Linked DNA regions of Homo sapiens: region 1 is linked to region 2. Evidence: fine-mapped expression QTL. A gene starts in region 2. The other region holds a variant in brackets. All regions are shown on one strand. Distances are from middle to middle. Region 1 overlaps PSME3IP1 (proteasome activator subunit 3 interacting protein 1). Region 2 holds the start of PSME3IP1 (proteasome activator subunit 3 interacting protein 1).

Region 1 (5,000 bases), 28 kb before region 2:
ATCCTGGCACTTTGGGAGGCTGAGATAGGAGGACCACTTGAGGTCAGGAGTTTAAGACCAGCCTGGGAAACATAGTGAGGCCCTATCTCTACGAGAAAATGTTTTGAAAAATTAGACAGTGCCAAGTGAGGTGGCTCATGCCTGTAATCCCACACTTTGGGAGGCCAAGTTGGGTGGATCACTTGAGGTCAGGAGGTCAAGACCACCCAAGGTGGGTGGATCACTTGAGGTCAGGAGTTCACTGGCCAACACAGTGAAATCCCATCTCTACTAAAAGTACAAAAAATTAGCTGGGTGTGGTGACGCGTGCCTGTAATCCCAGTTACTAGGGAGACTGAGGGAGGAGAATAGCTTGAATCCAGGAGGAGGCAGTGGTTGCAGTGAGTTGAGATCGCGCTACTGCACTCCAGCCTGGGCAACAGAGCAAGACACTGCCTCAAAAAAAAACAAAAAAACTAGTCGGGTATAGTGGTGCATGCCTGTGGTCCCAGCTACTTGTGAGGCTAATGTGAGGATTGCTTGAGCCCAGGAGTTCAAGGTTACAGTGAGCTATGATGGCACCACTGTACTCCAGCCTGGGCAACAGAGCAAGACCCTGTCTCAAAAAACAAACACACAAACAAACAAACAAAACAAAGAAAGAAAGAAGGAGGAGGAAGAAAAGAAAATGCAGGACTTGAAGATGAAAGGAAAAGTTAAGAACTCTACTCCAGCCCTTCCATTCTTCCCTGAAATGTTTCCGGCCTTATTTAATCACTACAACTTGATGTATAGGCATTATCCCCATTTTACTGATGAGGAAAGTCAAATGACTTGGCAAGGTTGTAGGTTGCTTAGGGCAGAAAATGTGAAACTAAACGTGAATCAAAAGAGAACATACGAAAATGATAACCTGAGCTCACTGCAGAGTAAGGGTTGGAGTTCATACTTTGTTGCCACAGGCTGACAAGCATACTACCTTCTAGGGTTTTGCCTTAGATGCACTAACACCTCATTTACCCAGACACCTCAAGTAAATGTGAAAAGAATACACAGTTCCAAGTATAGGAAACCAGGAGTAAGCAAACAATACCACTGAGCAGTTAGAAGAGATATCAAACGGCCCGCACACAAAGTTCAGGAGATCAATGTATTTGCTTGTTTGTGCAAGAAGCTCTAAGAAGGGAAAAGGAAGTTGCCAAAGATAAGCAATGTTAAAACACGGAGATGGAGAAAAGTCAAATGAAAGCCGACAGTGGCTACAGAGATAGAGCAAGGCTACAAAAAAAAGGCAGGAGCAAATACTTGTACTATCATAAAAGCAAATTTCCTTAAGATACTAAGAGTTCTTCCAAATCTGTTAAAAAAACAACCAACAACCAAATAGAAAAGTGAATGGAAAACATGAACAACTCAAAGAAAAAGAAACAGATGAATTTTAAACATAACGGGATAAACAATATATTAGGAGGGAACATGTTAGGAACAGCAAACTTCATTTGCTGTTCAGGGAGTACAGAGAAATTTGGCAAAGTTCTTCGAACTTAAATGATGTTCATAAGAGAACATTCATTGCAGCACTGTTTATAGTAGCAAAAGAGTACTGACAACCAAAATGTCCATTAATAGATGACTAGTTAAGTAATGGACTACTATTCAACCATGAAGAAGAATAAAGTAGCTGAGCATAATGGCTCATGCCTGTAATCCCAGCACTTTGGGAGGCCAAGGCAGGAGGATCATTTGAGCCCAGGAGTTTGAGAACAGCCTGAACAACACAGGGAGACTCTGTCTCTACAAAAAATTTAAAAAATTAGCCGGGTGTGGTGGTGCACACTTGTAGTCCCAGCTACTCAGGAGGCTGAGGTAGGTAGGAGGACCACTTGAACTGGCGAAGCTGAGGCTGCAGTGAGCCATGATCGCACCACAGAACTCCAAACTGGGTGACAGAGCGAGAACCTATCTCCAAAAAAAAAAAAAAAAAAAGAAGAAGAAGAAGAAGAAGAAAGCATCTCTGTGTGTACTGTTATTGAATGATCCCCAAGATATTGTGCTAAATGAAAAAGGCAAGGAGCAGGACAGTGTGTGAAAGTTACAATCTGGGGCAAAGTGGCCATGCCCATGTAGATGCATGTCAGTGTCTGAGAACAATAAATAAAAACTGGTAGCAGAGGCTGCTCAGGGGAAAGGAAATGAGTGGCTGGAAAATGGGGGAGACTTACTTTTTACTCCACATTCTTTTGTCCCTTTTGAATTTTTCCTTTTCTTTTTTTTCTTTTTTTTTTTTAAGAACATAAGGCTCACTATGCTGCCCAGGTTAAACTCCTGGGCTCAAGTGATGTTCCCGCCTCAGCCTCCCAGAGGGCTGGGATTACAGGCATGAGCCACCTAGCCTGGCCTAAATGTTTTATTATGTGCATATATTACCAATTCAGACAGTTTTTTAAAATGCAGCTGTGCTTGGGTAGACAATTTTTTAAAAAAGCAAATACAAAAATTCAAAGAACATCCTGAGCCCTTAAACTAGGGAGGAATAGTCCCATTTATCTCTGTAACCCCAAGAGCATCCCAGTATTAAAGCTAAGAAGGCTGTAGAAGATGAGAGGGGTTGCTTGTGTGTATTCTCCACTAACGGTAAGCCCCTTGAAGGCAAGCATTCTTTTATCACCATTCCACCCCCAGGACATATAGCACAGGGCCTGGCTCAGAGCAGGCTTGCATTCACAAGGGTCAGAAATCAGAATGCAGGAAAATGTGTCAGACAGTTTACAGTTTCATTGCAAATGGCTAATTTGGGGGGAAGGGGTATAAAAATGTGATGCTCTTTTAACATTTGGAACATAACATCAAACTATACCATTCATGACTTAAAAATACATTGTAGTACTTA[T/C]GTATACCAGATAGAATGATATTTTCAGCATTCTGTTAGAAAAATTTGGTTGTTTAAAAAAAACAAACCAGCCAGGCGTGGTGGCTCACGCCTGTAATCCCAACACTTTGGGAGACTGGGGCGGGTGGACCACCTGAAGTCAGGGGTTCGAGACCAGCCTGGCCAACACAGGGAAACCTTGTCTCTACTAAAAATACAAAAATTAGCCAGGCGTGGTGGCACACCCCTGTAATCCCAGCTACTTGGGTGGCTGAGGCAGAAGAATCGCTTGAGCCTGGGAGGTGAAGGTTGCTGTGAGCCGGGATCGCACCACCCCACTCCAGCCTGGGTGACAGAGCTAGACTGTCTCAAAATAAAAAAACAAACCAACAAAGAAAAAAAACCTTAAAAGGATATATAGATCAGTTACCTAGAAAACTAATTTATGTGAAATTGTTGAATGAGGTATTTCATTTTATCAAGTACAGACACCCCTGCTTAATGATGGGAATATGACCTAAGAAATGCATCATTAGACAATTCCATTGTTGTGAACATCATAGAATACTTATACAACCTAGATGGTATAGCCTACTACACATGTAGGCCACATGGTATATAGCCTATTGCTCCTAGGCTACAAACCTGTACAGCATGTTACTGTATGAATACTGTAGGCAGCTGTAATACAATGGTCAGTATTTGTGTATCTAAACATAGCTAAGCATAGAAAAAGGCATAGTAAAAATACGATATTATGATCTTATGGGACCACCATCATATATGCACCCATCATTGACCAAAATGGCGTTATGTGGCACATGACCATATTTCAAGGGCGAATGGAATTTAAAGTTCTATTTTACATAGAAAAGAAGGATGAAAGTCAGAGTGCCTGTGGGGGTAGAGAACTGGCCTAACGGAAGAATGGAAGTTAGCTACAGAAATATAATCAAGGAATCTGGACCACTGTGGTATCAGAAGAGTTTAAGTGAAGAGACCAAATACCCCAATTATCTAGGAGGTTTCAAGAAAGAAAAGAGATTGCAAATCTGACAAATTTCATTCCAAAAGCAGTTAACTGTCCAAAGAGAACAAAATGGTGCCCTCTGATCTCACCCATTTGGTGAAGTTTCCTGCCAACTTCTGCATTTGCAGGACCACATTGTCATACCAAATTAACACAGAAAATTACTAATAGAGAATGTTCTTAGTATTCAGACAGATGCGTGACTTGGGAGTAGATGGGGCCAACTTGTGCATTCACTGGCTCTGCTCAGTGCTTAAGTTCAAAATCTTCGCTGGGGGAAGCCTGAATTTCTATCAGAGTCATAGGGGCCCAAGACGGAAATCCTCCCACTGCTAAGGACAGGGCTGAAGCAAGCTTCAGGGAGCGTTCTTCTTGTGGAGCCTTAATTCCTAGCAAAGGAGGACACTTCCTGCCTGGTTTCTGTTGCAAGAATGCAGGAGTAGGAAGAAGGGATTTAGAATGACAAAAAGATGGCTCTGAAACACAGCTGTCTGCCTGAGATAGTTCAAAGAATCCACACAAGTTTTCCTTTCCACTGATTCATTTGTATAGTTCCTACCAGGAAATAAGTACCATATAAAGAGCGACTAGCTTACTTGTAGAAATACATTTAAGATTCCTATGCCAAGAGCATTTAACCCCAGCTACTCAGGAGGCTCACGTGGGGGATTACCTGAGCCTGGGAGTTTGTGGTTGTAGTGTGCCATGACTGCACCTGTGAATAGTCACTGCACTACAGCCTAAGCAACAAAGTGAGATCCTATCTCTAAAAAAAAATTAATTAAAAGAAAAATATTCCCTTTGGGAGGCCGAGGCGGGTGGATCATGAGGTCAGGAGATCGAGACCATCCTGGCTAACAAGGTGAAACCCCGTCTCTACTAAAAATACAAAAAATTAGCCGGGCGCGGTGGCGGGCGCCTGTAGTCCCAGCTACTCGGGAGGCTGAGGCAGGAGAATGGCGTGAACCCGGGAAGCGGAGCTTGCAGTGAGCCGAGATTGCGCCACTGCAGTCCGCAGTCCGGCCTGGGCGACAGAGCGAGACTCCGTCTCAAAAAAAAAAAAAAAGAAAAATATTCCTATGAAGCTTTATGTGTGTGTGTGTATACACATATACAGTATAC
Region 2 (5,000 bases):
TGTCAAAAATAATTTTTTTTTTGAGATAGGGTCTCGCTCTGTCACACAGACTAGAGTGCAGTGGCATGATCTCAGCTCATTGCAACCTCCACCTCCCAGGTTCAAGCGATTCTCCTACCTCTGCCTCCCGAATAGCTGGGATTGCAGGTGCCCGCCACCATGACTGGCTAATTTTTGTATTTTTAGTAGAGACAGGGTTTCACCATGTTGGCCAGGCTGGTCTCAAACTCCTGACCTCAAGTGATCTGCCCACCTCGACCTACCAAAGTGCTGGGATTACAAGTGTAAGCTACCACGCCCAGCCAAAAATATTAATTCTTAAATAGAAAAGCTAACAAGATAGTAAAGAATTTGGACACAATCTAGAAGGTGAAAACCAGAAATTAAGCCCAATATTCAAAATGGATTTCATCCTGAGGACTTCTCTGACCTAAAAGCTAAAGTTTCAGTGCCTTTATGAGATAACAGAAACAAGTTCAAGCCAGGAGCCCATCCAGGGAGTGGAGTCTGACAACTACCTCCCTCTCCATCTTAATCTTGTGCCCAAAAGAACTACAGCTTCAAAGTAAAGGTGAACTGGGAAGTAAAACAGCAGGAATAATGGACAACAGAAACAGACTCCCCCAAAGGGAATTCAGACAGTGGAATTAAACATAGAGATTATAAAAACAACTATACTTTCCATGTTTAAAGAAATAAAATTAAGCCTCAAAATAGTAAGAAATAAAAAACTGTAAAAGTGTCACAAACCAAACAGAACTTCAGAAACTAAAAATTGCAATATATGATTTAAGATTTCAGAGGCCGAGTTTAATAACAATGGAAATAACTTGAGAATAAATTATCCAGAATGTACTACGAAAGAACAGAGTAAAAGACATAGAGAAAAGAGTGAAAAGGTTTAGTTAAATCGATAAAAAAAAAAAGAGAAACAATGGGAAGAAGCAATATATGCATATAAAATGGCTGAGAATTTTACAGAATTAATGAAAGACACTAATCCACAGATTCAAGAAGTCTAATAAATACCAAACAAATTGAACAAAAACAAACCCATAGTTCCATAGAGCATAGTGGAAATACAGAAAACCAAACACAAAACAATCTTTTTTTTAAACTTGTCGATACTTGATTTTAGACAAAACAATCTTAACAACATATTCTATAGTAAAGAGTGAAACATAATATTTAAGAATGAAGACAAAGTATGTTCAAAAGGTGACTAATGGTGAACACGTTGAAAATGCTTAATTTAGCTGCCATAAAGGCATAATTACACTATGACTGACCCTGTACGTACATCGCACTTGTTACTTGATTTACCACATACGTGGTTTTCAATAGCTAAAGCAGCAGCTTGATTCTAACCAAGCATCACCATTCTTGGAAGATGAAAGTGAAGACTGATAATCAACTAAATGGTTTTGACACAATTATTCCTTTCTTATATCATGAAGCACTTCCCCACAGGGTAAGGACATGAAGACTTCAGTTGAGAAAGATAATCGGGCAGCCTCTACTTTCAGATCCTTACAAATTGTTCGCAGGTCATCTAACTAAAAGACTGTAAAAGCTGCTGTCGGCTCAATACTTTGTATCAAAAAGGAGTCTACCCACTGATTCCCTTCAAATATTTCAGAAGGGTGCCTTCCATTTTATGGTGTCCCTGTGGACACATGAATACACCAAATAACTGATGAATCGACAAATCTTATGTCACAGGTGGTAGGCAAGAGGTCATCGGGAATTCCGATCACCAGGCTCGCATCTGGCTTCTTGGGTCCCACTCCTGAACTAACCAGTCGGGCTACCCGAGCGTGCGGGAGTCTGAGAAACTGCATTTTAAAAGGGCCCCAGGAGATCTTGTTTTCCACTAACATTAAAGAACCACGACTACGAACAAACAGGTCTCCCCCTTTCCTCTGTGTGGACTGACAGTCACAAGGACCACCAACTCTCAAGCATGACGCTTCAACTCTCTTTGTTTCTTAAGTTTTCTGCAAAACGGGCCAGCTGGCTTGTTTTCCGTAATAGAAAATTCGCTTGGCACAGCAACTGGTACATGGCACACAATAAATGTGCTTCCCATCCTGCACTGCCATTCTGGGATTCAACCATTTCCAACCAGACGCCGCACATCCGAGTGAGTAACCTGGACCTGTTCCAAGACCTCTGGAACGGAGCCTGCTACTCACTTGAAACCTGGGTGGCCCTACCTAGCAGAAAATTGGGGAAACCCCATTAAACGCCCGGCAGTGTTGGGCCCGCCTGAAAGGGTCCTCGCCGCGACCCAGATGCCTTCCCGCGGGCACCCTCAGCTCCCCTCAGGCTGGGCCCGCAAGCCCCAGGCTTCGGCTACTCCGGACAAGGAGCGGGTGCGCGGACTGAGAACAGGCCTGGCCCTAACCCTAACAGCAGCCGCAGCTCATCTCTTCCGTAAGGAAGCTGGAACCCAGGTGTCGCCGCCAGGCCAGGACCGAGGCCGCACTCACCTACCGGCGCGCGGGAGGCGAGACGACCTCACCTCGGCGGCGCCCACCCCAAACCGCCACCGCAGAGCCGCTCGCTCTTAAAAAAGAAAAAAAAATGAAAGGAAGAAAGAAAGAAACAGAGGAAGGAATGAATGAAAGAAAGAAAAAAAAAAAGAAAATAGCCTTTGCTTTTGTATTTCTTTTGACCCTTCAGGGCTTCCTGTTCCTCACCGCCACAATAGAGTCCCGCCCCACTTCCGGCGACGTAACCCAATCCGCGGAGCTCTTCCTCCCCGGGAGCCCGATGGAAATCCGGTACCCTGAAAACGAGCCGGAGAGACTTGATTGGGCCATTCACGCCTCAGGATGAGGACTGGCCAGTCTGCGCCTGGAGGGCGGGCCGGTCCCGCTGATCACGTGACACGATTTTTGAAAGGTGATTGGCTGTCAAGGAGAGGGCTTGCCACCGAGGAAGGGGCGTTTCCTAGGGGACTGAGGGAGGGCTGGGGCGGTACGAAGCGGGGGTGGGCTCTGCGCGTAATGGCAGCGCCGTGGCCTCGCGTCCATCTTTGCCGTTCTCTCGGACCTGTCACAAAGGAGTCGCGCCGCCGCCGCCGCCCCCTCCCTCCGGTGGGCCCGGGAGGTAGAGAAAGTCAGTGCCACAGCCCGACCGCGCTGCTCTGAGCCCTGGGCACGCGGAACGGGAGGGAGTCTGAGGGTTGGGGACGTCTGTGAGGGAGGGGAACAGCCGCTCGAGCCTGGGGCGGGCGGACCGGACTGGGGCCGGGGTAGGCTCTGGAAAGGGCCCGGGAGAGAGGTGGCGTTGGTCAGAACCTGAGAAACAGCCGAGAGGTTTTCCACCGAGGCCCGCGCTTGAGGGATCTGAAGAGGTTCCTAGAAGAGGGTGTTCCCTCTTTCGGGGGTCCTCACCAGAAGAGGTTCTTGGGGGTCGCCCTTCTGAGGAGGCTGCGGCTAACAGGGCCCAGGTGAGAGGCAGCTATCTATCTCCTGGGGTGGCTCCTGGTACCGATGGGGTCCTGACCTACTCAGGGGTGCCCGGGATAGAAAGGGTAGATGAAGGGACGCTTTAGGAGGGTTCTTTTTGTGGAGTTTACGGTCTAGGTGGCACGGATGAGGCATACCTCCCCGGGGAGATTTAGAAACGCCTTGGGATAGAGAGAGAATGGGGCTAGGAAGCAGGAGCTAGAACTAGCGGAATGTCCTACTACGGAAGCCGGAGCTGAAAATTGGGTAAGGACCTTGGGGAGAGGGGATTTCTGGGCGGTGATGGGAAGAAGACACCTCCATCCACAGGAAAGCCAGAGTGGGGAGTAGTGAAAGGGAAACGGGAATTATTCCCTCTCTCTGTAGATCGACCAGGTGTCCCAGACACAGGATCCAACTGCTTCCGGGCTTATTGCCCGAGTGGGGTGGGGAGAGTCTATCCCACCAACACCCCTTGCGTGAGTCCAAATTAGGCATTTGTCTCTCCTGCTGCCTCACTTTCCCCGTCTTTGGGGAGGGAAACCGACTGAGACCGAGGCGGTCGGCTGAGACTCCGAGGTCCTGTCTTGTATAGTTCTCTGAGAGAGGTTGCTCCCCCTGGAGTGTTGTACTTTGAACTTTGAAGGGTTAGAAGTGTCTGTTATCGACTGAGTAGAATCCCGCAGTTTTCCAGGCCCTTTACCTACCATCTGTTCTTGCTTAGTGGAGTGACTTAACCTCCTTAAGTCTCTACTGTAAAATAACCAGCGCAGTATGTGAAAGTACAAATTACAAGCTGCGTGAACGTAAGTTAGTGTGATTCTACCACCAAACGGGTTGCTGTTGAGGAATAAAAGTGAAGGCACTTTCTAAAATGTAAAGTAGTATGTAGAGGTAAGGGGTGGGATTAATACAGTCGTTGTCTGTCACCTGCGGAGTGCTGGGAGCCATATTGTACTGAAAGCTTCAAGGTTCACAGCTTCTTAGGTCATATTAAGATCTAAACCCATGGTTTCAAACCCTGCTTAGATGGGGATGGTGGGATTTCCAGCTTTTGCTCTCAGAGTTTTCATTTACTTTGAACTTCTTATGGTGCTGGCAGGAGTTACCACTGTAATATCTTTTCCTTCAGGAATTATTTTCCCCTAACAGCTGAAATTTTCCTCTAAGTAATTTGATCTCAACATTGTAAACCTCCTCCCCCTTTTGCATATATATATGCATGGCTTTTGGATGTCTACAGGCAGTGAATATCATACTTTCTCCCTCAGTTGTGATTTGTAAAGACTGCCTTTTTTCCTCCACGAATACTATGCGTTGTTGTGGTAGCCCTAGACTATAGATTATGAGGCATGTTGGAAGTTGCTTTTAAATTTCTCTTGCACAGTGGTTCTCTTTATTTTTCCCCTTATGTGGACTTTGCATTTCCTGGGATGGTATCTTGCTTTGTAGATCCCTCTATGAGATTGTAAGAGACTTGTGTCCCTGTATGACATTTTACTAGTGTTTGGTTCGTCGTACTTGTTAGAGATGGTTTTCCAAATA

What was found. PIP is the estimated chance that this variant, and not a neighbour inherited with it, causes the effect.
Region 1: its variant is fine-mapped to the expression of PSME3IP1 in whole blood (TOPMed, PIP above 0.99).

The regions. Positions count from the first base shown.
Region 1 is chr16:57,155,368-57,160,367 of GRCh38, forward strand. All of the region lies in intron 6 of PSME3IP1 (proteasome activator subunit 3 interacting protein 1), which reads right to left. Among named protein-coding and RNA genes, the nearest start is that of PSME3IP1, 28 kb to the right of the region's middle. The variant T/C (reference allele first, on the strand shown) is at 2,870.
Region 2 is chr16:57,183,329-57,188,328 of GRCh38, forward strand. It overlaps PSME3IP1 (proteasome activator subunit 3 interacting protein 1), which reads right to left and starts at 2,711. Exons shown (of 7, transcript NM_024946.4): 1 at 2,493-2,711. RSPRY1 (ring finger and SPRY domain containing 1) reads left to right here and starts at 3,001. Exons shown (of 15, transcript NM_133368.3): 1 at 3,001-3,123. RefSeq lists enhancers at 2,336-2,385, 3,697-4,341 and a silencer at 3,086-3,295.